2 separate regions of the Homo sapiens genome follow, and region 2 is linked to region 1. The links come from fine-mapping of genetic effects on gene expression. Tissue or cell type: skeletal muscle. Region 1 holds a variant in brackets; the other region holds the start of a gene. All regions are shown on one strand. Distances are between the middles of the regions.

Region 1 (10,036 bases):
TTATTTATTTATTTTGAGATGGAGTCTCGCTCTGTCGCCCAAGCTGGAATGCAGTTGTGCGATCTTGGCTCACTGCAACCTCTGTCTCCTGGGTTCAAGCAATTCTCCCACCTCAGCCTCCCAAGTAGCTGGGATTACAGACGCCCGCCACCATGCCCGGCTGATTTTTGTATTTTTAGTAGAGATGGGGTTTCACCATGTTGGCCAGGTTGATCTCGAACTCCTGACCTGAAGTGATCTGCCTGGCTAATTTTTGTATTTTTAGTAATGACGGGGTTTCACCATGTTGGCCAGACATGTCTTGAACTCCTGACCTCAAGTGATCCGCCTGCTTCAGCTTCCCAAAGTGCTGGGATTACAGATGTGAACCACCACACCCGGCCAGATTTTAGTGATGTTAAAGATCTTTCTGAGTAGAGTTACTTTATTTTCACTGTGAATGATCACATTCACAACATGATCCTTATTCTTTTACTCGGACAACATTGAATAGTAATATTTATTAGGTATTTTATTATTCTTCTGATACAATTTTTTTTTTTTTGGTGTGGAAAATGAAAAAAAAAAGAGAAGTACAAAGAAAAAAACAAAAACCAGTCACCTGTATTCCCAGTACCTGGAGCTAATGATAGTGAATTTTTCGGTGTTCTTTTCTGACTTGTGCTGTGAAATATATATGCTCTGCCAGATTAGCTATCTGTAAAGTTATCTATCTATAAATAAAGTTTTGAGTCCTGGTTTATTCACTTGTAGGGGTATTTCTATATTAGAAATACTTCAGAATCTTGATTTTAAAAATCCAACTTCTGCATATATCATAGTTTATTCAGTAATTTTGGGTCTTTTTTGTTTCTGAAATTTTTTGTGATATAAATAATGCTCTGATGTATGAATGTCTAAATACGTCTCTTATTGGCTCTCTGGGCAGTTCTGTTTAGATCAATTCCAAGAAGGTATATTATTGGTATGTTATTATTGTACCCAGTTTTCCTTCCACCAACAGGGTATGAAATTGCCTGTTTCACTATATCCTCATGACACTGAATGTTAATTATCAAAAATGTTGAAACGGCTTTGCTGATCTTCAAAATATTAAGTCATGCATACTTATTGTAAAATATTCAGATAACATAAAAAGGTAAAATGCCAAAGATGATAAAAAAGTGACTGCGAATTCATGATCTAGGCATACTTATGTATTTGAGGTATAACTTTAGCGACATTTAATATAATACGGTACTTATAATCTTTTTTCCTTAGCACCTTCATGAGGGCACCTTTCTTTGCCAGCAAATACATGTCGTTTTTAATGACCACAATGTACTCTTTCTGGATATGTTCGTTTCTTTAACCTGTGGCTTCCTAGTGGACATTGAGGTTATTTCTGGTTTGCAGATTAGTAACAACACAGAGATTTGCACATCTTTGTACAGAAACCTACTGACTCTCTTAGGAAATTGTTAGATTTTGTTTCGATCTGTGGAGTAAGTTCTCTTATTTTTGAAAGTAAATGTGCCTTTCCCTAAGGTAGGATTAGACTTTCCTCCCCATAACATCACACTTGGCCATGTCACTTGCTCTGGCCAATTCAGTGAGAAGTGACTTGTGTAACTTTTGGCCAGAAGTTTTAAAATCCAGCGTATGATTTGCCATATCCTTTTTCCCCTCTTCCGGGCAACCCACAATTTTCCAGGTAGAGTTTTCTCCATCAGCCTGAGTCTTGCAAGGGAAAACAATGTGGAAAAAAGCTGCATGCCAACCATGTGGCATGAGCAGGAAGCAGACGTTTGTCGTATGCCATTGGGATGTGGAGATTGCTTGTTCTGCTGCACAGTCTAACTCAGCCTGAGTGCATATTAGCTAGTGGCTCCCTAGAGAGAGTGAACTTGCTTATTGTCATCACTTATGCATATGAATACTGCCTCAGCGTCCATCTGCTTGTCCTGTTCCCAGCTTGTCATGCTTGACTAACATATTTTGAGGCAGTCTTCACGCAGCTCCTGTTTTCATGTTCTGGGTAGATAAGACCCCATACCCTGAGCTGCTTGACCACATTACTTCTGCTTTAAGCCTCGGGAACCTGATAAGGTAACCCCCGAGTTCCTGTGCTGAGTCTCGTGCTTCCTTCAAATGAACTAATCCAACCGTGCTGTGGGAAACCCACCTAGGTAACCCCATAAAGGATCCAACCCACAGGCCCCTCCGTTTCTCGTTCCCCACCTGCTGGTCGAAGGAGCAGGTCCTGGATGGCTCCTCCCCTCTTCTCTTTGGTCTTGCCAGGGGTGCTGTCCTCTTCCTTCCAGACCTGTGAGTAGTAAACTTGATTCATTTTGCAGTCTGAGTGTCCCTCACTGTGCTGCACCTGACTACACCAAGCCTCACCATCTCACTTAACATTACAACACTGAAGCTTTCTAGCAAGGTAAGGGAGTACATTTCCTTCTACACTTTGCCAACACCAATTAATTTGACTCTGTTTACTCTTTTCCAACTTGTCAAAAAATGACACCTCACTTTTATTTGTGCATTTTTGTTGATTAGTGAGGCTGAGACATATTTCATATCACATGTTTACTAGCCCTTTGTATTTCTTTCTTTGAACTAATTTACCAATTCCTTTGTCAATTTTTTGATTAGTCTGTCTTATCTTCTTGAGGTCTAAGGATTTTTTTACATATGCTAAAGTTATTATATTCTGCCTTCTTTTTCTAATTTGTCATTTAAAAAATCTTGTTTGGGGTTTATAGAGTTTCCTGAATATGCGGCTTGATATCTCTTGTCAGTTTTGGAAAATTCTCTGCCATTATCTTGTCAAATATTGTTTTTGTTCCAATCCCTTTTTCTTCCTATCCTGTGACACCAAATTCACACACATTAGACCTTTTATACCATGCTGCCTGTGTATGTTATGCTTTTCTTCCTATCTTTTAAATCTTTTTTTTTTTTAATTTTCTGGGCATTTTTGATTAAACTTATCTTTTGATTCACTAATCATATCTTTACCCTAATCTACTATTTAATTGCTTTTTACATTCTTAATTTCAATTATGCTGTATTTCTAAAATTTTTGATTCTTTATTGATTCTAGTTCTGTAATAAAGTTCCTCATTTGTCATTATTTGCTTTTACATATTAGTTATTTTAAAGCTTGATCGTTCTAATTTCTGGATCTTCTGGGGATGTTTTCTATTTTCTGTTTTTCTCTTGGCCCTGTCTCCTGATACATCTGGTAATTTTTGGAATGCTAGACATTGTGTATGAAAATTGAAGTAGCACTAGATTGTGTTATCTTGTCCAGGGAGGATTTAGTTTGCTTCTGGCAGACAGAGTGGGACAGAAGATTGCAGTCTAGGTTGTAGTTTTTATAAGATCTGGCCTCTTTCTGGCCTGTCTTGTAGGATATAGCCCTTTTGGCTTCCTATAGAAATATGGCCTGGGCAGATCATGAATACCACTTTTGTCTCCTTAACCCAAGCTTATCCAACCCCTGGCCTGCGGGCCACATGAGGCCCAGGATGACTTTGAATGCAGCCCAACACAAATTTGTAGACTTTCTTAAAATATTTTGAGATGCGCGCGCGCGCGCGCGCGTGTGTGTGTGTGTGTGTGTTTTCAGCCAGTGTTAGTGTTAGTATATTTTATGTGTGGCCCAAGACAATTCTTCTTCCATTGAGGTCCAGGGAAGCCAAAAGATTGGATACCCCTCCCTGCAAACCCTCGAGAGTATGACCAACTCTGCTTAGCTCCTCCTACCCTTCACTACTGCTCTCTGCTTGGTTTCTCAGCACCCAGCCTTACTCAGCAAATGCCCTTAGGGAAAGCCATGAGAATGGAAGCTTATCTCAGGATTTCCGCCTTCTTTCTGGAATACAATCAGGCCTGCAAGTCCTGGTCGTCTTGGAAACTGGATGCCTCCAAATGGATATTTAGGGAAAAAAAGTATTCAGTTGTTCTCAGGGGAAAAGTGCCTCTGATTGAAGCCAGTTTCTCAGAGCTGAAAGTGAGAGTCCCTGTCATTTGCCTTTTTACTTTCTTTACACTGTTTTGCTGAGAAGGTTTAAATTTTTATACAGTCAGATGTATCTATTTCTTTATGGTTTCCGGCCTTGCTCTATTGCTTCAAAATGCTGTTTCTAAGCCAGGTTTATAGAAATAGTCATCTACATTTTTTTTAGTGGTTTTTTTTTTTTTTTGAGATGGAGTCTCATTCGGTTGCCCAGGCTGGAGTGCAGTGGCACCATGTGGGCTCCCTGCAACCTCCCCCTCCCAGTTTCAAGCAATTCTCCTGCCTCAGCCTCCTGAGTAGCTGGGACAACAGGTGCGTGCCACCATGCCTGGCTAATTTTTTTTGTACTTTTGGTAGAGACAGGATTTCACCATATTGGCCAGGCTAGTCTCGAACGCCTGACCTCTTGATCTGCCACCCTTGGCCTCCCAGAGTGCTGTCCCGCACCGAGCCTTTTTAGTGTTTTTATGATTGAATATTTAATGATTCATTTCAGCCTGAGATGTGAGATAAAGATCCAACCTTATTTTTTTTCCGTATGACTGGGACTTTTGTCCAGAACTATTAATGAATTCATCTTTTGTGAAGATCTGAAATGTAATATTTATTGTTAAGCATATGGTGTCTCATTAATATTTTAATTTACATTATTTTGCTTACTAGTAAGATTATGTATATTTTACATGTATTTACTGGCTTTTTGCTATTTTTTGGTTTTTCTACTCATTCCTTTACCCTTGAAAAATTGTACTCTTGGTGTATTTATGCTGATATTCAATATAATATTTCTGTTTAAATCATTCTGTGAATGTCACTAATCTTGATTGCTTTTTCATTTTTCTTTCAATTTTACTTATAATTTTGATATAAGGGAATATTGTATTTATATAGTAACTTACATTGTATATTTATTGTTATCTTATTATTTTTAGCTTTTGAATCTCTTTTCTCCATCAGTAAACTATTTTAGGATATAAGTATGTATGTATGTATGTATATATATTATACCCTTGACTTTTTAGTCCTTTTGTATTATCTTTTGATTTTATGGTGTGTGTGTGTGTGTGTGTGTGTGTTTACTGCTCAGTAATCAACTTTTCCAGCAATGTTGGTTGAGTCATCCATCACTGCCCAGATTGCTCCTTTAACACATGTTCCCCTTTAAAGACAGGGTCTTATTTTGGGCCATCTGCTTTATTTTCTTCTCACCAATTTGTGGGAAAACTTTATTCTTGTTAGTATTCTACTTTCCTTGTCTCTTATTTTTGTTAAACAGAGCATATATGTGATAGAAAATAGAATCCTGGCTGGGCGCGGTGGCGCCCATGCCTGTAATCCCAGCACTTTGGGAGGCCAGGGCGGGCGGATCACCTGAGGTCAGGAGTTTAAGACTAGCCTGGCCAACATGGTGAAACCCCATCTCTACTAAAAAAAAAAAAAAAAAAAAAAAAAAATTAGGTGGACGTGGTGGCGGCTGTAATCCCAGCTACTTGGAAGGCTGAGCATGAGAATCGCTTGAACCCGGGAGGTGGAGGTTGCAATGAGCTGAGCTGAGATTGCACCACTGCACTCCAGCCTGGGC[A/G]ACAGAGTGAGACTCTGTCAAAAAAAAAAAAAGAAGAAGAAAAAGAAAAGAAAATAGAATCCTGCAGATGAGCTTGCAGTGAGAGACCCCAGGCTTCTTGGCCACCTGTCTGCTCCTCAGAGCTGTCTCTTGCCACTGTTCCCACTTTCATTTCATCTGGCAGTCCCCTCCCTGCCAGTTGCAACCTGCTCATCATAGCTACTCTTGGTTTGTCCATTTGAGGCAGTGGAGATGATTGTGTGCAATGGTAGTGGAGTTTTTTGCTGACTTGCCCTTTTCACCCCTCTGATCAGACCCATCCACCCATCCTTTTTCATATGTATTCTTTTAGTTTCTTATATATGTTATTTCAACCCCAGTTCCTTCTCCATCAATTCTAGCTGGTATTTCCTGACTTCTCCTCTGTTAGGTAAGGACCTTCCTAACCTTTTCCCACCACCCCGTATCCACCCCTCATATTGTCTTCGCTAGCTTTCCACTTACGAGACTAGTAACATTTTCTTGGATCTTAATTATGCTTATTATTTCAACTTTATCTATAGTTTGATTCTAAAAGTAGAAAACAACTAACCCTTATATTATAACACTACAGCTATTATTAGTTGAGTCAACTGGCATAATAGGACTCTCTTTTTTTCTGTGCAGTAACATATTTTAAATTATTATCGCAGATAATATATTTTGCTCTGTTTACTTTTTTTTAAAGCATTAGCTATTAACTCTTTTAAGAAAAAACAAAATAAAGCAAAAACCTGTACCATCAATGAATGTACGACCCCATCTGCAATGACAGAATACTTTCCTCCCCTTTAGACACTGGATATTTGAGTGGGGAGCTTCTCAAAGGGGTCATCTACACATTTGTTGTATGACATTTACTTTTTAGTGCCTTAACTTGCCTTGTACTGTACCTCACCTCTGTCTCAGTCGACACCCTACCCTGCTCATCCCAACCCCACCCTGGGTCAACCTCCTGTTCACCATGACTCCAGCCCAACTCCTCCAACCCTAGCTCACCTCCAGAGCTCTGAGTCTTCACCTCTCCAGCCTCTCTCCAACCTCTTCTCCTCCCGGGCAGGGGGGCTAACATCAGACCCCGACTCAATGACCCACTCACTCCCCAACCCCTCACCCTGGCTCAACTTCCCTGACCCTGGCTCACCTGGATCCCCATTCCAGCACAACCCCCACCCCTCTCAACTCACTTACCCTCACCCCCTCATGAACCCTCTGCCATTTAAGGATAGTTCATCTCCTTTTCTGCTGCAAGACTACTCTTGGCTGTTGAGCTACAGTTTTTTCAGACCCAAGGCCTGTGCTGTCTCTGAGCCGAATTCTGGTCCCGTGGCAAGGCAGAACCTGTCCCAGAGTCTCTGCAGTGAGCAAAGCCTAGAGACTCAACAGCGAGGAGTAACCACATGTGGGAGCTGTCAGCTCACGGGGATTTTCTCTCCTCTCCAAGGGCAGGAATTCTCTTCATTGTCACAGACCTATTCCTTATTTAAAGCTTTTTTTCACTCTTATTCAGGGAGGGATGTTTAAAGAGATCATGTATTTATTGATTGATTGATCTCCAATACTGCAGAAAATATGCATTTTAAAAACACACATCCTTCTTTTTTTTTTTTTTTTTTTTTTTGAGACAGGGTTTCTTGCTCTTGTTGCCCAGGCTGGAGTGCAATGCCCACCACAACCTCCGCTTGCCGGGTTCAAGCGATTCTCCTGCCTCAGGCTCCTGAGGAGCTGGGATTACAGGCATGCGCCACCACGCCCGGCTAATTTTTGTATTTTTAGTAGAGACAGGGTTTCTCCATGTTGGTGAGACTGGTTTTGAACTCCCAACCTCAGCTGATCTGCCCTCCTCGGCCTCCCAAAGTGCTGGGATTACAGGTGTGAACCACCACGCCCAGCCAAAAACACATTCTTCTTTCTACTTGTTATTCCCTTCGTGCATGCACTCATCCCCATGCATGCCGAGGGCACATGTTCTGGAAGGCCCCTGGGAGCCACATGGGGTTCACGACCTCAAAACTGAAGCCCTCAGAGGGTATTTGATTCATTAGGTGGGGTAAGACATGAACCTAAGAAGAACGACTCCTTGAAAGAAAATGAGGTAACAGGAAAGGAATTCACTGATACATGTCAGGAACCCAGAGCTGCCTGCGATGTGGGTGGGATTCGGCACTGGGAAACCTTGTGTGTGGGTCCTTCGGGGAAAGTGGGAGTTGACTGCCGTTGAGCGGGTAGGAAAGTGCCTTCCAGGTACAGGCAGCAGGAGTGGTGATTGTCTTGGTAGAGGATGGGTGAACTGCAAATAGAGTTGAAGGAGCTGGGCTGAGTAGTTGGGATTTCACTCCCCGGGTGATTGGTGGGACCCAGCAGGGCCAGTCCTGGGCTTTTCCTATGGCAAGTAACTCAAGAGCTGCAGGAGCAGATGTTGTTAAGCAGAGAGGAAACACCAAACATGGATCCCTATCTCTAGCGAGTGTGCCCTGTGACTGTGGAGGGTGGAGGGGAGTCACGCCAGAGGGAGGTGCTGTGTTGGGGCCAGACCGGAGGGTTACATCCTGAGCAGGAGAGGAGGGAGGAGGCCAGGTGGAGGAGCGGCCTGGGGGACATAGGTGGTTGTGGTGCTAGATTGGCAGTGGATTTTTTTCTGAAGGCTGCCGTAACAAATGACCACAAAGTAGGTGGCTTAAACATCAGAAATTGATTCTCTCACAATTCTGGGGGGCAGATGTCTGAAGTCCAGGTGACAGCAGGGCCACGCTCCCTCTGGCAGAGCTGGGAATTCTGCGGTCTGTGACAGCATCGCTCCAATCTCTCTCTGTCCTCATCTGTCCTCTGCACATCTGTGTCTCAAATCTCCAGGATGATCTCATCTTAGGATCCTTAATTATGATCTATAAAGATGCTATTTCCCAACAGAGTCTCATTCACAGCGACCGGGGTTAGGATGTGGACATGTCTTTTCTGGGCGATACATTTCAACCTACTACAGGCAGTTACCTGAAGGAGTAACTGAAGGAGAGGGGTTCAGAATCCTCCAGTGGGGCCTGATGGGCAGAGGAGAGACTTGGACACCCTTAAGAGACGAAATGAATCTTCAGAGGTTCAGCCATTGCTTGCAATGTCATCTTCTGGGCTCATCCCTGCACTCCAACCCTGGACATTTTCTCTGGTCTTTTCTAGTGGCCACCATCTGGATGATTACGACTCTGGAAATCTCTGTCCATCATCCATTTTTTTGCCTCCTCTGTGAACGAGCAGGTGTGATGGCCTGAAAACAGAGAGGGAGAAGGCTGAGTGTACCAGGGCAGGGGAAGCGCTTCCTGGAATTACGTGTCCCAGGACAAAAGTGAAACTGCCTTCGCTGACTCATAGGAAAGTTTGAAAATATCATGTTTCGCCTATGCCTGGGGGATCTTTGTTTTTGGCATAAGCCGAACAGATTGTTCCAGGCCAGAAAAAAACTAAGCCAAACCAAAACAACAGAATGACTTAATTATGTACCAGCACCCTTTAAAATTAATTATGCTTGCTTTCTTTTTGTCCCCCTCAACTTTTAGTTTAAGTTCTGAGGCACATGTGCAGGATGTGCAGGTTTGTTACACAGGCAGTGTGCCATGCCCATTGTGGTTTGCTGCACAGATCAACCCATCAGCTAGGTATTAAGTGCAGAATTCTTTAGCTATTCTTCCTGATGCTCTCCTGCCTCACACCCCCTGATAAGCCCCTGTGTGCATTGATCCCCAACTGTGTGTCCATGTGTTCTCATCGTTCAGCTCCCACTTATAAGTGAGAACATGCAGTGTTTGTTTTTCTGTTTCTGCATTAGTTTGCCAAGGATAATGCCTTCCAGCACCATCCATGTTCCTGCAAAGGACATGGTCTTGTTCCTTTTTATGGCTGCATAGTATTCCATGGTATATAAGATTATGTAAAGAGATCGAACCTACAACTGATTGGCGTACCTGAAAGACATGGGGAGAATGGAACCAATTTGGAAAACATAATTCAGGATATCATTTGTGAGAACTTCCCCAACCTAGTAAGACAGGCCAACATTTAAATTCAGGAAATGCAGAGAAACCCAGTAAGATGCTCCATGAGACCATCAACCCCAAGACACATCATCATCAGATTCTCCAAGGTTGAAATGAAAGAAAAAATGTTAAGGGCAGCCAGAGAGAAAGGCCAGGTTACCCACAAAGAGAATCCCGTCAGACTAACAGTGGACCTCTCAGCAGAAACCCCACAAGCCAGAAGAGATTGGGGGACAATATTCAACATTCTTAAAGAAAAAAAAATTCCAACTCAGTTTCATATCCAGCCAATCTAAGTATTCATAAGTGAAGGAGAAATAAGATCCTTTTCAGAAAAGCAAATGCTGAGGGAATTTGTCACCATCAGGCCTGGCTTGCAAGAGCTCCTGAAGGTAGCACTAA
Region 2 (10,036 bases), 27 kb before region 1:
AACCACTTGCCACAAGCAGCACAATTAATGTTTTTTCTGCAATTAATGTTTTTTCCCCATTTAGCTTGCTCTTTCTTTCTTTTCTTTCTTTTCTCTCTCTCTCTCTCTCTTTCTGTGCTGGGATTACAGGCATGAACCACCGCGCCCGGTCGAGTTTTTTTCTTAATATGCTGTTTTGCTGAACTGAGTTTTAGTTCCTAGTAACAGAGACTAACTCTGGAAAGCTTTCGTCAACGACAATGAAAACAACAGCAGCAAAAGAAATTATCAGACGGTTGTTATCTCATGAGATCTACTTTGGATTAGTGCTGTCATGTTCCCCTCCAAGCATTCACACAGGAATGTGGTCATGTCATTTCTAGAACAGTATGAAGACAAGTAGGATCTTTACAGCCCTGAGTCTTCCCATCTGAGCTTGAGGTCTGGCTCTCCCAGTCTCTCTCACTGAGAACAATTTTTACACATAATACTGGGGTTTAAAAAGCTCAAGCCACTTGAGGTGGGATGTTTTTCTGAGGAAATACCTGGACAAGGGTGCATTTGTGTCCACTAAGGAAAATGTTGGAAATACCCTAAACATCAAGAATAGGAGATTGGTACCCCCACAGTAACAGACATTCAAAATCTAGAACTATTATCATTGTAACTTAGCAGTGGTAAAGCCATAATTGGAAGCCAGCCTGTCTGATATCACTATCTGGTCTTCACCCCAAGCTGCACTGCCTTCTATACACATTTCTCATTCACTTCACCTGGGCTAGCTCTCTCGGCAAATAAGGCAATGAATCTGGAGAAGCAGGTCCTACAGAACAATTTATATCAAGGCGAATGGATACTTTAATTTTCATACTAATGAAAGTTAACACTGTTGCTAAATTCCAGACAATGTGAGAAGGTTTTAAATCACTCTCTCCTTCAGTTCTTCATTTAGCCTTGGGAGATGGGAACTGGTTATTTTATTTTCTTCTTTGGTGAGGGATGGCGTCTCACTCTGTCATCCAGGCTGGAGTACAGTGGCACAATCTCAGCTCACTGCAACCTCCGCCTCCCAGGTTCAAGCAATTCTCCTGCCTTAGCCTCCCGAGCAGTGGGGAATATAGGCATGCAGCACCATATCTGGCTAATTTTTGTATTTTTAGTAGAGATGGGGTTTCACCATGTTGGCCAGATTGGTCTCGAACTCCTGACCTCAAGTGATCTGCCCACCTTGGCCTCCCAAAGTGCTGGAGCTAGTTATTTTATGAACACTGTGGTGCACTTGTGTGCTCCTCCACCACTAGGTTCCCCCTGCCTCCCTCCTTCCAAACCAAGGTGGGGCAGGCCCTATAGGTGCATGCAGTTTTCTCTCTCTTCAAGATAAACATACTGCTTGTAATTTTGAAAGGCATGTTACAGACATATAACTGAGCTAGTGCTGAATTTTTAAAAAATGGTCCAAAGACAAATTATTCAACTAAATGAACAAATTGTGTAATTGCTATGTATATCTTTCAAAATCATAACAAAATAATTCATTGAAACTTGACAGTCGGATAAAATATAATTTCTCAGTACTTCTCTTTTTGTTTTGAGACAGGGTCTCACTCTGTTGCCCAGGCTGGAATGCAGTGGCACCATCAGGGCTCACTGCAGCCTCGACTTCCCCCTCAAGTAGCTGGGACTGCAGGCACACGCCACCACACTAGGCTATATTTTGTATGTTTTGCAGAGATGGGGTTTCACCACGTTGCCCAGGTTGGGCTTGAACTCCTGGGGCTCAAGGGATCCGCTAGACTCAACCTCCCAAAGTTTTGAAATTACAGGTGTGAGCCACCACACCTGGCCTCAGAATATTAATTTAAGTTATCCTGAGTCGGCAGTTTTGATAAGCTACTTTCTCCTACCTATGCAGATTTTGTACATATAATAAATGTTGGCTTTACTAAAAATGCCTATGCCTGATTTTGTGTCTTTTTTTTTTTTTTTGGTGTTTTGTTTTGTTTTGTTTTTGAGACGGGGTCTCGCTCTGTCGCCCAGGCTGGAGTGCAGTGGCACAATCTCTGCTCACTGCAAGCTCCGCCTCCCGGGTTCACGCCATTCTCCAGCCTCAGCCTCCCCAGTAGCTGGGGCTACAGGCGCCCGCCACTGCGCCCAGCTAATTTTGTTTTTGTATTTTTGGTAGAGACAGGGTTTCACCATGTTAGCCAGGATGGTCTCGATCTCCTGACCTCGTGATCCGCCCGCCTCGGACTCCCAAAATGCTGGGATTACAGGCGTGAGCCACCGCGCCCGGTCGATTTTGTGTTTCTTTTAGCCCATCTTCCAGAAATGTCCAGACTCTACTGTCTTTGTTGTAAAAGAAGCATATTTTATTTTTTATTTATTGTTTCTTCTTAGCGGTTTATTTTTAAAAGACAGGAAAATGATCAGCTTGCATCCTGAATCGGACCACTTACTTATAAACGATAGTTCTTCTTTGAAGCAGACGATGACATTTTAGTTTATATTTAAGGGGAAACACATTCAAATGCTATTTGGACTCAAATTTCTAAGGAAGAAAAGGAAGTGGTAAACTCTGAAGATAGAACCTCAATTCCCTTGCTGAGTGACGCGGTCAATGAGCACCAATCGCCTACGGGAGGCCAGAAAAGGCTGCGTGGTGCTCCCCTCTCAGGGCCTGGCCCTGTCCACCTGGGCCTTGGTGACCCGCAGCCGGGACTCTTGCTGTAAAGTGACGCAGTGCTCTCCCTGGGAGGACAGTGGGTCCAGCAAACCCAACTCAGCCCTCAGGGGGCACTTGAAATTGTAACTACCCCAGGCCTTTGGAAACAACCCTCAACCTTGAAAGGGGAAATTCCCAGTGGGAATTGATGCAAACTGTGGTCAGTTACACAAAAAGGTAGAGTTTACTGTAATCTGGGGGCTATTTTTGGTTGCAGAAAGAATCCCCGGAGTAGAGAAGGAGGCCAGCGAGTCTCAGTTCGCTGCTCGCTCAGAGCCGCCCAGGTGCGAGGGCGTCTTCACCAGAAATCGGTGCTCCCGCGCGCCCCACCCTCCGGGGCCCTGCAGATGCCGGGTCGGGGGCCGCCAGCAGGCCCTTTGGCTCCTGCTGGAGACACTGGAAGACCAGGCGACCAGGACAGCGGGTCGGGCCAGTGCGGTGTGACACGAGGGCTCGAGCGGCTTCGCAGTTTAAACGTGTCCTCATCCTACACCTCCCACGGCTGTTTCGGATTCGGTGCCCTCGTGCCCCTCAGCTTGCCCAGCGGCACGTGGGCCTCAAGCCTGGTCCCCAGCGGCTGCGCCAGCCTAGCTGTGTTCACCTTGGGGCCGCGAGGGCCTCCCACCGGCTGGCAGCTGGTGGACACGCTGTCAAGATCGGGGGAAAAAAAGGAAGGAAGGAGGCTAGGGGGACACAGGGCTGGTGGCCTCCGCAGTCTTTGACCTGCGACGGGCGCGAGCGCACCTCCGCGCCTTTGCGCAGAGACCTTCCCCCAAGATTGGCTCACGACGCCTCCTACCCCGAAGTCAAGGGCTCCCTGTGGCAAATCCTCACACGCCCTCCTCCTCCCCGCCCATCCCCGGCGCCAGGACTGACGGGGAGAGGGCAAGGCCGGGCCAGAGGGGCTGTGGGCCTGGACTGCGGCTGTCGCCCGCGGCCCTGCTCTTTTGGGCAGCCAGACGTGGGGTCAGCGCCCAGTCGCAGCCTCCGGGGGTGAGTCCGCAGATCCCCGCACGTGACACAGGCCAGGCATGGGGACGGGGAGTTCCTCGTCGTCCGTTCCCACTCAGATGCTCCCTGAGGTTCCGGAACACCCCGCCCCCCATCCCAGGATCTGACCAACCCTCAAGCCACGGCCGGCCCCGGTTCCGCGAGACGGGGGACTCTGAGGATTGTCCTCCCTTCCGGGCTGGGACTCCCCCACAGCAGCCGACCGCCCCCAGTTCAGAGTGGCCCGGCCCGCAGCGCTCCCCGGGCACAGGTCCCAGGTGGACGGCTCCGCTCCCGCGCCCGGCTCCTCTGCCCGCCAAGCGCCCCGGGGATTCCCCGGCCTCCAAGCGGCCGCGGCCGGGTGGAGTCAGCCCCGAAGCCCGGGATCCCCCGAAGGGAGAAAACCCGCTCTGCTCCTCTGAAGCGGCGGGAGAAACCGGCCCCACCCAGGTCCGGGGGCCCGACGCCCTCGGCGGAGGCCGGCTCCAGGGGTCCGAGGTTCCCGAAGCTGGAGGCCGGCTCCGCCCCGGCGTCCCCCCGCCGCCACCTCCGCCCCCATCCCGCGGGCCGGCGGAGGGAGGGGCGGGGCCGCTTGCCGCCCGCGACTCGGGTTCGGCTTCTTTAGTGATTGCTTCTGCTTCTCCCGCGCCAGCTGTCCCCAGCTCTGGGGCAACGCTGCCAGGTGCCCAGTCCCCGCGCTCGAGAGAGCGCCTGCCTGGCTCTGAACTCTGGCCAGGAAGGGGCGCGAGGGGAAGGCCCCGGGGGAAGGCGTGTCCCCGCGCCCCGCCCCGCCCCGCCTCGGAAAGCCCCCGCGGTCCCGCCCACCCCAGGGGCTCGCTCAGCCTCCGGAGACTTTTTTCTTTGAGCGCAGCCGCCTGGTGCCGGTTTCCGCCGAGCTGGAGCGCGCGGGCCACGGCTTCTCTGGGGACGCAGAAGCGAGAAGCGGGGACCTCGGCGCGCGCCCCGCGTCCCGCTCTTCCTGCCCGCGCCCCGGCCCCCGGCCCGCGCCCCGGCCGCCGGCATGGTGCTGCTGGCCGGGACCGGGCCGGAGGGCGGCGGGGCGCGCTGCATGACCCCACCACCGCCGTCCCCACCCCGGGGCGCGCAGGTCGAGGAGGACCCCGCTGACTACGAAGAGTTTGAGGACTTCTCGAGTCTGCCAGACACCCGCAGCATCGCCTCGGACGACTCTTTCTACCCTTTCGAGGACGAGGAGGAGCACGGCGTCGAGAGCGCGGAGAGCGTCCCGGAGGGCGTCCCGGAAAGCGTCCCGGAGACGGCGACCCTCCTGCGCGCCGCCTGCGCCAACAACGTGGGGCTGCTGCGGACGCTGGTGCGGCGCGGGGTGAGCGTCGAGGAGGCGCAGGAGACTGACCGCAACGGCAGGGTAAGCGGGCGTCCCCGCAGGATTTGAGCCCCCTCACTGCCCCCACTCCCCTCCTCCCCACCACATCCCCGCGCCTCCCAGCTCCTGGCTCCGGACCGGTCCCTCGGTCACTCAGCCGCCGCCCAGAGCGCCTTTTCCCCGCTGTTTGGGAGCGCGGTGCCCTGGGTGGCTTCCCCGTCTCAGGCTGGGGGACGCGGTGCGGGGAGGGAGCAGTCGAGGTGTCAGCGCGGCAGAAACGCCAGTCCGGCGTCCTCACCGCATCCCCTTCTCGTTTACCGGTCCCCGTGGACCTCCTGACTGAATTCGCGCTGGCTGCCCGTGCTGCAATCCAGGATGGGCTTCTTGCGGCCCGGTCCCCTCCTGACTATTACCTTTCCCCAGGTCCCTGGCAGGGGACCATTCCTCCTCCCCTGCAGGAGACAGCCCCTCCTGCCCAGCGCCCCATTTGGCCCCTGGGCCCCTCGCGCCGCCCTTGTCCTAACACGCTGGGGCGCAGATCGGCTCCTCCAGCCGCAATGATTTGGAAGCAACAGTTTCTTCCCTCGCCGGGACAGCTTGGTCCCCTACCCCACCTCCGCTGAGCTTTGTGGCCCGCGCCGCGACCAGCCAACGTGATCTCTGACTGGTCTGTCCGCAGGTCACCTTCGCGAGCCAATGCCAGCCGGGGCTCCCCAGAGTCAGGGCATAGGGAGAGCCCCAGAGCCGCGGGCATCCACCCGGGTAGGGCAGGAGGCGTGGAGGCAGGCACAGGCTATCCTTTCGTTATGACCAGATTCAGAGAAAACGAGATGTTTAGAAAAGAAAAGAAAAGAAAGGAAAAGAAAAAAAGTTGGCTTAAGAAGACCTGAGAAGGACTGGCTGGTGGAACACCTTCCACCAAGCAAAGCACTTCAAGGGAAAACTGCAGAGTGACCACGGTGGCCAAGTTCCCCGTAGTCTGTGCTCAGTGGGCAAATGGCAGCGTTCTCACCTGATTTTTGTATTGTCCAAGGACCGTGGTATCTGCAGATGCAGCCTAGCACAAATGCACATGCTTTTTGCTCAGGAGCCTGCAGCTGACAGAAAACATGTGCTTTGACTTGGGGACCCGGGTGACCTTGTGCCTTTGGTTTATCCTGCAGTGGGTGGGGCAAGTGGTTTGCCCTGACTGTGGTTTGGGCTGGGCTTAGGTGGATGGGAAGCCCTCCAATGTCACTCTCCCCTTGTACTACATTGCCCCCGTGATTCAATTACCTCCCACCGTGTCCCTCCCACAACACGTGGGAATTCAAGATGAGATTTGGGTGGGGACACAGCCAAACCATATCACACAACATTTGAACTTGGAGGAAGGGTCTGTGCTTGTCATATGTTAGGCAGTGAGACCTGAGGTGGCGTCCCCGTAGGTAGCATCACCTGGAGCCCTGTAGTTCCTGCTGCCATTCCTCTTGCAATGCCTCCTCCCCCAGCCCTGGCGACAGATGCCCTGGCTGGCATGTGATTAGGGCTTGGAGCTCCACCCGAAGTCCTAGGGCCTGTTTCTCAAGTTCTACATTTGGTTTAACTGAGTTTTCAGGCCCAGATGTGTGTAATCAGAAACCTTGCTTTCTGGAAGCCAGTATGGGGGCCCGCTTTAAAGGAAGCCTCACCAAGCTCATAAAGGAACAGGTGGGGTGGGCCTCTCCCCCTGTCCTGGGCAGCCTGGTGGTCTCCAGTGGGCTGGAATGGGCACAGGAGGGGCCTGGCTCGCCCAGTCCCCACTCTAGGGCACCACTGGGCTCAGCTTTATATAATGTTTCCTTTAGGGGCAAAACATAAATGTTTGAAAACAGCTGCATTGAAGAAAACTGACAGCAACGTAAACCATCCCCAGGGGCTCGAGCCTAACAGACTGAGTCTCCAGGCCACACAGCAGAGAGGCAGGGGAGGGCCGTGGTATGGGAGGCTAGCTCCAGCCTCCCAGCAGCTCTCTGCCTCAGTTTCCTCGTCTGTAAAATAGGGATAAGGGCAGCCTCTCCTCTTAGGATGTGAGCATAAAATGGCTTAGTGCCCACAAGGCTCTGGGAAGGCCTGGCCCCAGGCTTGTGTTTACCATCGTGTTTCTCATTCGTCTGCCTTCTCTTGGCTTGGAAGAGAGCACCTTCCAGTTTTATTTTGTTTTGTTTTGTTTTTTGTCTTCTGCCAGGCAAGGCTTTTTCTCTCGCTGCTTTTCTTCCCCTTTGATTACAGCAGAAGTGAAGACTTTGTTTCTCTGTGTCACGTAAAATAATGATGTAGGCCCGGACATAGCCTGCTAACTTAGAGACCCTTGGACTCTTTCATCTTTGGATCAGACGGAGCAGGGCTTGTGTTCTGTGCTTTGTGAGGCCAGTGGGGGGAGCGAGGCAGGAGCCTCCATTCTTTTCATTAGCTTCTCAAGGCTGTTGATCAAACAGCCTCTATCTTCCTGAAAAACAGCTGAAAGAATCAAGTGTGGCAAAGCCCTGATGCCCTGCTCTGTGGTAAATGGAGTGAGTCATTGCCAAAGTGTTTACCGCAGACCTACTGTGCTCCCGCTAGGTACTTTAGCAGACTCAAAACTGAATCTGGCAGTCCCTGCCTTTGAAGAGTCCTAGCCTTTTAGTGAGGAGAAGAACTTGCAGAGGAAGAGCGGCTAGCTGAGACCTAGGAAACTGGGAGACGGACTGCTTTTCACATGACGGTGTCCGGTCTCCCCGACGGCAGTGTGGGTCACTCCCTCTCTGTCTGCAGGCTCCTGGTTTAAGGGCACCTTCCCTGGGAGGCTTTTCTGTCTCCTCTTGTCCAAGCCTACAGAACCTGGAGCTGAGCAAGGGTAATGTAGGCATTCACACATTTAGGGCTGAAATTATAAATAGGATGGTCATTTAGAGAGCAGGTGACGTTTGAGCAGAGACGGCATCTAGGGGAAAGAGGAGTTAGACGGAGGGAACAGTGTGTGCAAAGACTGAGGTGGGAACCTCGTTGGAGCCTGGTCTCCAAGCTTATCATGATTAGTGGCAGTGAAAACCTTAAAGAAGGCCCGGACAGCTTTGGTGCAGTGGAGGGGTAATTGCATTAATGACAGAATGACAGCTCACAGATACAGCCCACAGCCGGCTTTCTAGGAGGAAATGATCTCTAAAGGCGTCTAAACTTTTCTGGGACATGCTTGTTGAGCTCTTCATCTCTGGGCATTTAAGAAGGGAGCTTTGCCTGAGCTGACAGGCATTCCATTTGGTCTGGGTAACTAAGGGTCAGATGTGTTTTGTTTAAGAAAATGCATTCTCTCCTGCCTCCTGAGATTGGTAGAATGTTGGATGTGGCTCAGCACACCATTTTCCTTCTAAAATATTTATTGCTCTAAAAGCATTGCATGATTTAATATGCAACATGTAAATATTTGTCAGATAATTGCCCAATAACATTCAAAGCTTGCTTCCAATGTCTTCTGGATTTATGGTTGTTTTGTTCCTTCTGACTTGAGGCAGTGCAAGCTGCCATAATTCTTTTTCTTAATTCTTCTCTTCCACTTACTATCACCTGAAGTTCACCTTTATGGCCTTGGCGGCTCTTGAGATGACAGTGAAAACACACAAAGTGTGTTGTTTTAATTGTTGCAGAAGGGCAGTTTAAATGTCAGACAGCTCTTGGACTTAATTAGGCCCAAATACATGCTCAATTTAAAATACTGCACTCCTGTCCTGATGGGATTCTGCTTCTGCGTGTTCGTGTTTGTTTTTGAGACTGAGTCTTGCTCTGTCACTCAGGCTGGAGTGCAGTGGCGCAATCTCTGCTCACTGCAACCTCCGCCTCCGGGGTTCAAGTGAATCTCCTGCCTCAGCTTCCCACATACCTGGGATTACAGGCGTGCGCCACCACGCCCGGCTAATTTTTGTATTTTTAGTAGAGACAGGGTTTCATCATGATGGCCAGGCTGGTGTTGAACTCCTGACCTCAAGTGATCCTCTTGCTTGGCCTCTGAAAGTTCTGGGATTACCGGTGTGAGGCACCGCGCCTGCCCTGCTTCTGCGTGTTTAAATTTCCAGGGTCTCTTGGTTACGTTTTCCAAAGGCCCCTCCATTGGTTTGTTTTGTTAGGTCAGCAAAGCCCACATCACACCCAGTGTGGGTGTTTCCCTTTACTCTTGAGGTGCTTAAAATTAAAACTTAATTTTCATAGATTTATAGCGATGATCAGGGCTTTATCTTGAAATGTATGTGAGAAAGTTTTTATTTATTTATTTTTTTAATACTTCCGAAAGATTTATAAGCTCCAGAATCACTTTTCCCCAAAAATGAGAATCCAGTTATTGCAACAGCCCTCCGTCTTTACCAGGCCTCGGTGCTCATGGCCTGCGTGTGCACAGCAACGGGCTGACTAGCATAGAAAGTGACTTCTCTGGTTCTTGTTAGTTACCATAGAAAGTGAATTCTGGCCTCAGGCCTCTGTATGCTTGCGGAGGGCCTGCAAGCACAAGCTTTGCTTTTTAGGAATGTATGTTAGGCTGGGCGTGGTGGCTCCTTCCTGTAATCCCAGCACTTTGGGAGGCCGAGGCAGGCAGATCACTTGAGCCTAGGAGTTTGAGAACAGCCTGGGCAACATGGTGAAAGCCCATCTCTAAAAAAATACCAAAATTAGGCAGGCATGGTGGTGGACGCCTGTAGTCCCAGCTACTGGGGAGGCTGAGGCAGGAGACTCGCTTGAGCCCAGGAGGTGGAGGTTGCAGTGAGTTGAGATTGCACCACTGCGCCCCAGGCTGGGCGACAGAACAAGACCCGTGTTTGAAAATAAATAAATAAATAAATAAATAAATAGAGGCATGTATGCTAGTGTTTTAGTTGCATCTCCAAATTCTGAACTGTGAGAAAGCGGGTGAGGAGGGCAAATTGAGCAGAATCCTAGACCGGGAGTCCGAGGGGCTGGAGTCAGAGGAGGTCTCAGCTGAAATGGGCTTGGCGATGGGTGGGCTGGCAGATGTC

Which allele goes with the higher level. Alleles are on the strand shown, and positions count from the first base shown. SD is a standard deviation of normalised expression in the study named.
With allele G in place of A in region 1, the expression in skeletal muscle of the gene that starts at base 4,315 in region 2 is lower (moderate effect, 0.45 SD a copy in GTEx).

Evidence for each region. PIP is the estimated chance that this variant, and not a neighbour inherited with it, causes the effect.
Region 2: ANKRD33B starts here. The variant in region 1 is fine-mapped to the expression of ANKRD33B in skeletal muscle (GTEx, PIP above 0.99).

The regions. Positions count from the first base shown.
Region 1 is chr5:10,587,018-10,597,053 of GRCh38, forward strand. The region is part of intron 1 of ANKRD33B (ankyrin repeat domain 33B); the gene reads left to right. Among named protein-coding and RNA genes, the nearest start is that of ANKRD33B, 28 kb to the left of the region's middle. RefSeq lists a silencer at 1,880-2,174 and enhancers at 1,880-2,174, 8,195-9,394, 8,622-8,681. The variant A/G (reference allele first, on the strand shown) is at 5,589.
Region 2 is chr5:10,559,756-10,569,791 of GRCh38, forward strand. ANKRD33B (ankyrin repeat domain 33B) reads left to right here and starts at 4,315. Exons shown (of 4, transcript NM_001164440.2): 1 at 4,315-5,078. The coding sequence starts at 4,713. RefSeq lists silencers at 3,899-4,758, 5,099-5,148, 6,119-6,168 and enhancers at 4,378-5,272, 5,273-6,166, 5,289-5,498, 5,819-5,868, 5,889-5,978 and 3 more.